2 separate regions of the Homo sapiens genome follow, and region 2 is linked to region 1. Evidence: fine-mapped expression QTL. A gene starts in region 1. The other region holds a variant in brackets. All regions are shown on one strand. Distances are between the middles of the regions. Region 1 holds the start of MIR3142HG (MIR3142 host gene). Region 2 has its middle 5.8 kb from the start of MIR146A.

Evidence for each region.
Region 2: its variant is fine-mapped to the expression of MIR3142HG in whole blood (TOPMed, PIP above 0.99).

Annotation. Positions count from the first base shown.
Region 1 is chr5:160,466,620-160,469,536 of GRCh38, forward strand. MIR3142HG (MIR3142 host gene) reads left to right here and starts at 1,632. Exons shown (of 2, transcript NR_132748.1): 1 at 1,632-1,821. RefSeq lists enhancers at 576-1,212, 1,213-1,849, 1,317-1,546, 1,577-1,736.
Region 2 is chr5:160,489,681-160,492,597 of GRCh38, forward strand. No RefSeq gene overlaps it. Among named protein-coding and RNA genes, the nearest start is that of MIR146A, 5.8 kb to the left of the region's middle. The variant C/T (reference allele first, on the strand shown) is at 1,648.

The sequences.
Region 1 (2,917 bases):
GTGCTTGAAGGTATGCCCAGAGCCCACTCAGATACCTGGGTCCACCCCAAACCCCCAAGGAACTCCCTTCCAATGGGAGAGAATCTCACACAAGGAAATAGTTTTGATGTGGACCCCTTGAGAGGCAGAGTAATGCAGTGTACCAGGTTCAGAGATTTGGGGACAGGAAACCTCAATTCAAATCCTGGCTCTGATATTTTCTAGCTATGTGAACTCTGGCAAGTTTCGACTCTCTTGGAACCTCGGTTTCCTCATTTCTAATCTAAGAATAGTATCTGCTTTTTAGGGTTCTTAGGAGTATTAAATAAGAACATGTTTTTATGAACAGTGTCTGGTGTATAACAATTGCTCAATAAATATTTGCTTTTAAAAACGTTATCTATAGTAGACGTTCAAACAAACCTTTTGGGAGCTCAGCAAGATAAGCAACAAAAACCTTCAGGGGAGGTCAGGAAAGTGACTACATCTGCCTGGAAGCAAAATCCTTTGAGCTGGTCTTTTTCGGTCCATGAGCACGTGACCAAGGAAAGGAAGCTATATTTTCTCGACTGGGAATTTGAATTTGCAGTTGCACATTCCAAAGGCCTTGTACGTTCTTTCCAGTTTGGGAAAAGGAGCAGCTAAGGGCACCCATGGAAACACTTACTAATTGTGTGACCTTAGGCAAGTCCCCCTAACCTCACCAAAGATAAAATTCCCTTATGAGTAAAAGGGGATCACAAAATGGAGATAATAATTCGGGCTACCTGCTATGGATGATTGCTGTGGGATTAGGGAAGATGATGCACGTGATACATTTAGCAGAGTGCCTGGTGCCTAGTAGGTGCCCATTAAAATTTAGCTATGACTGTTCTCTTTAGCTGACACACAAGACTGCCTTGAATGTTCACATTTCCAGAGAAAGGTGCTCAGGAAGATTTCTCAGTGTTCCGCCTGCCAGGTCAGTTTACAGTTCAAAGAATCCCTTTGTTCAAAGGGTGAGCAAATCCAGGCCTCGTGTATCTGCAGCAATGAAACAAGGGAGCTTTCTGCCTGATCTTCTCCCCAAAGGCAGTCTCTCTTTTTAAATGCCTGCACACATGTTATTTATTTATTTTTGGTTAACGTTTAAATTGAGGTTTTGGCTGAAACTCAGCCTGCGCGCACTTGAAAAGCCAACAGGCTCATTGGGCAGCCGATAAAGCTCTCGGGATTTCCCCGCGGGGCTGCGGAGAGTACAGACAGGAAGCCTGGGGACCCAGCGCCTGACCAGAACTTCCTCGGGGGAGGCTGCAGGGGAGCAGGCGCATCCTGCACAGAACGCTCTAGAGCGCGCAGGCCAAAGCACCAGGCTGCTCCTGACACGTGCTGCAAGAGGGTCCCCGACCCGGGGGTCCAGACCCTGCACGCATGATGGGGAAGGTGGAGGCTTCCCCCTCAGCTCCGCGGAGAGAAGCTGACACTGCCAGGCTGGAACCTTCCATTCCGGCCCAGCCTCTTCCTCCCTCGCTGTGCCGAGGAGGGATCTAGAAGGGACTTTCCAGAGAGGGTTAGCGTGCAGGGTGTGGAAATGGAATAAAAGCATATGCAAATAGGCCTTAGCTGCCTTCCTCTACCCCAGCAAATAAGAGTCTCTCCAGAAAGATGCTCTTTCTCCAAGACGCTTGACCGCTCTTCCTTTCCTGGATGGCACCAGCAGGGCCGATTGGAGTGGTAAACCCTGGGCCGGAAGGCATGCCAAAGGGTGGACAGGATGGACAGGAGACAGTAGCACAACGAGGAGGGGGAGAACAGCGGCTGAATTGGAAATGATAAAATAAAATGAAATTTTAGGAGCTCGCTGTGAGTATGAGCTGGGAAAAAATAATCATTGCAAGCTGATTTATTATGTACTTATCTTCTGTTTGAGAGGCAGCAGGCTTTTGTACAGTGGATTATTGCAGAGTAAATGGCACATTAAAGATATAATCAAGATGTTTAAGGCATATTGAAATGACATTAGAATCAAGTAGGTGAGACTTTTGTCATGGTCTAGAAATATAAAAATGTCAGTGACTTGGAGATATTTCCAGTGCTTTAGTAAAGATGTGGCTCCATTTTCAAAAGGGACATATTTTTAACCTTTTGTTATTTTCAGGGTGGGGGGGGATAGAGTGGGGTCAGGAAGTGGTTTAGAATCTCTATGGATGATAAAATAATATGCTTTAAACCTGGAGTTGTAGACTGTGGTCTCTATTTAGCAAGTCATAAACTTTCTTGCAGTGACAATAGCATGAAAATATTGGACAGTAAATATGGTGCTCTTAGGAGGTTTCAGGGTTGGAAGACTATGGCTATTACTTTTTGTTTATTGTGTTCCTATTCTCAATTTCAATCTTGTCTTTGGATAGTAAGAATTTTTTTTAAATTTTCTATTTTTTTAAAAAGAATCTTTTACATACTGAACCTGACTTGTATACTAATTGGCAAACAGTGTCACTTTTCTTTCTTGATGCCTCAATGGGTTTAATTATTGTATTACGGTATTTTCTTGTCATTTGAGACCTTCACATTCAGTGTCCTTTCTTTCTTTTTTTTCTTTTTCTTTTTGAGATGGAGTCTTGCTCCCGGCCTGTCGCCCGGGCTGGAGGGCAGTGGTAAGATCTCGGCTCACTGCAACCTCCGCCTCCTGGGTCCAAGCAATTCTTGTGCCTCAGCCTCGAGAGTAGCTGGGATTACAGATGCGCGCCACAATGCCTGGCTAATTTTTGTATTTTTAGTAGAGACAGGGTTTCGCCACGTTGGCCAGGCTGGTCTTGAACTCCTGACCTCAGGTGATCCGCCCGCTTCGGCCTCCCAAAGTGCAGTGTCCTTTATTTTATTTGTGTGCCCTGGTTCTGCTTTGATTTTGCCCCAAACCCTTCTGAGTGTAGCGCTTTACTGACACTTTATCCCCGTT
Region 2 (2,917 bases), 23 kb after region 1:
TCCGCCTCCTGGGTTCAAGCAATTCTCCCTGCCTCAGCCTCCCGAGTAGCTGAGATTACAGGTGCCCACCACCACGCCTGGCTAATTTTTGTATTTTTTACTAGACAGGGTTTCGCTATGTTGGCCAGGCTGGTCTCGAACTCCTGACCTCAAGTGATCTGGCTGCCTTAGCCTCCCAAAGTCCTGGGATTACAGGCGTGAGCCACTGTGCCTGGCCATAGCTCTTTTCATAATCCTAATTTTAGAGATAGGAAAGTGGAATTTTCAAAAGATTTTGCAACGTATCTGTGCCCCGTGCCATATAGCTGGTAACTGGTGACGTGGAGCCTCAAAACCAAAATCCCTATAGCAAAAAGATCATTTTTACTTAAAAAATGTATACAAATATACATGAACTTAGAAGGAAGGAAAGAAAAAAAATCTTTTGCCTCTGTTTCTGCAGTGTGACTGAAAACAGAAGAGCATGCATTGAGGCCCACTCTGACTTATTCCTCCACCTGTGCCTTTGGTCAGCAGGAGTGAGCCCCCGTCCATGACCAATTCCACCCCAAGGACACAGTTATACTTTAAAATATGTGACAATTGAGAAGCCATATGTGCTTTTTCTTTGGGTCCTGCAATGCTCCTAAGACTGGTCAGATTCCACTGTCTCTGATCAGCACATGTTTATTTATTTATTTATTTATTTTATTTCTGAGACAGTCTCTCTCTGTCACCCAGGCTGGAGTGTAACGGTGCGATCTCGGCTCACTGCAACCTCTGCCTCCCGAATTCAAGCAATTCTCCTGCCTCAGCCTCCTGAGTAGCTAGAACTACAGGCATGCACCACCATGCCTGACTAGTTTTTGTATTTTTAGTGGAGATGGGGTTTTGCCTTGTTGGCCCGGCTGCTCTGGAACTCTTGACCTCAAGTGATTCACCTGCCTCAGCCTCCCAAAGTGCTGGGATTACAGTTGTGAGCCACCACACCTGGCCATATTTCCTTATTTTAAAACTTATTTTTCTTCTTATATATGTAATATGAATTTATGGCAAATAAGTTTGAAAATATGGGAAAGTATAAAAGAGAAAATTTGAAGTTATTAAAATTTTTAAATTATGAAATTATGATTTTTTTTACTGGAAATTTAGAGAATTCAGAAAATCATAGGAGAAAAAAGTTATCTATACACTTATAGATTACCATTTTGGGTTATTTCTTTTCATTTTCACTTTTTTTTCTTTTACACGATTGGGATTATCTTTAATTTGTGTATCTGTGTTCTGTGTTCTGTTGTTTAACATTTTATAGTATGCTTTTCTTCATGTCCTTGCATGGTCTTTTTATTTATTTTAAATGGGTGCATATGCAGTTCATGGGCTGGATGCGCCTTTGTTTACATGATCATTTCCTTATTATCAGACATTCTGAACCTGGGTCTCCTGACTCTAAATCTGCTGCTATTTTTTGTCCCCACATATCTGTCTCTATTTCCTTTAGCTTCTTGTTTGCATTTATTTGAGAATTAATTGTGATGATTTTAGGAGTGTAAAAAACAGTATAAATAAATGTGTCTTGTATTACTACATAACGGTGCTAGTGTTGAGGATTTACTATGTGCCAATCTCTATTTCAATACTTTGAACAGCTTCTCATTAAAGCCCCCG[C/T]CTCCCACAACAACAGTAGATAGTTATTATTCCCATTATATAGATGATATCACAGACATACACAGAGGGTAAGTATCATAGCACATTCATTTGTGTCTAGCAAAACTTCAGCTTACAGAGCCATATACAAATAGGCATTTATTTGTTCTTAGCCAGTCTGAATATGAGCAACTACTACTAGCATTTGGGTTAGAGTCTCAGTGACATCAAGGCTGTTGTCACTGCAGAAATTTTCTCCTGTGCCTCTTGGTTTTAAAGTGGCTGCAAAAGCCATAGATATCACATCCTGATTCAGGGGAGGAAGAGAGAGAAACAGATGGTGTGGACTGGTCACATCCGCTCCTTTTATCAAGAAAGCACATTTTCTTTCCAGAACCCCCTTCATCTCCCCAGCAGAATTCCACTCATGCATTATTGTGTTTTTCATGACCACTGCCAACTCCAGAAGAGACTGGGAAAATGAATGTTTTAACTTTTTCAGCCTCTGGAGTGGAAGAGAGGTTTGGGAATGACTTTTTTCTTTTTCTTTTTTTGACACAGAGTCTCACTCTGTCACCCAGGCTAGAGTGCAGTGGCATGATCTTAACTCACTGCAGCCTCCACCTCCTGGGTTCAAGTGACTCTCGTGCCTCAGCCTCCCAAGTAGCTGGGAATACAGGCATGTGTCACCATGGCTGGCTAATTTTTGTATTTTTAGTAGAGGCAGGATTTCACCATGCTGGTCAGGCTGGTCTTGACTCCTGATGTCAAGTGATCCACCTGCCTCTGCCTCCCAAAGTGCTGGGATTACAGGCTTGAGCCACTGCACCTGGCCTGGGAATCACTTTTGCTCTGGATTAAGTTATGTCCCCCAGAATTCATATGTTGAAGCCCTAACCCCCCAGTGTGACTGTATCTAGAGATAGGGTCTAGGAGGTCATTATGGTAAAATGAGGTCATAAGGGTGGGGCCCTAAGACCCATAGGACTATGGCCTTATAGGAAGAGGAAGATTCAATCTCTCTCTCTCTCTCTCTCCTACCCCATCGCCACCCCCACCCCCCATGGTGACACAGTGAGAAGGCACCAAACTTGACCATGTTGGCATCCTAATCTCAGACGTCTAGCTTCCAAACTGTGAGAAAACAAATTTGTTTTTTAAGCCACCCATTCTATGGTATTTTGTTATGGTAGTACAAGCTGACCAAGACAAATAGCCACCACAAGATATCAGCGCTGGTCAAGTGTTGGTCTTATTTTTCCTAGCAGCCAATTTCATACAGGGGCCAACC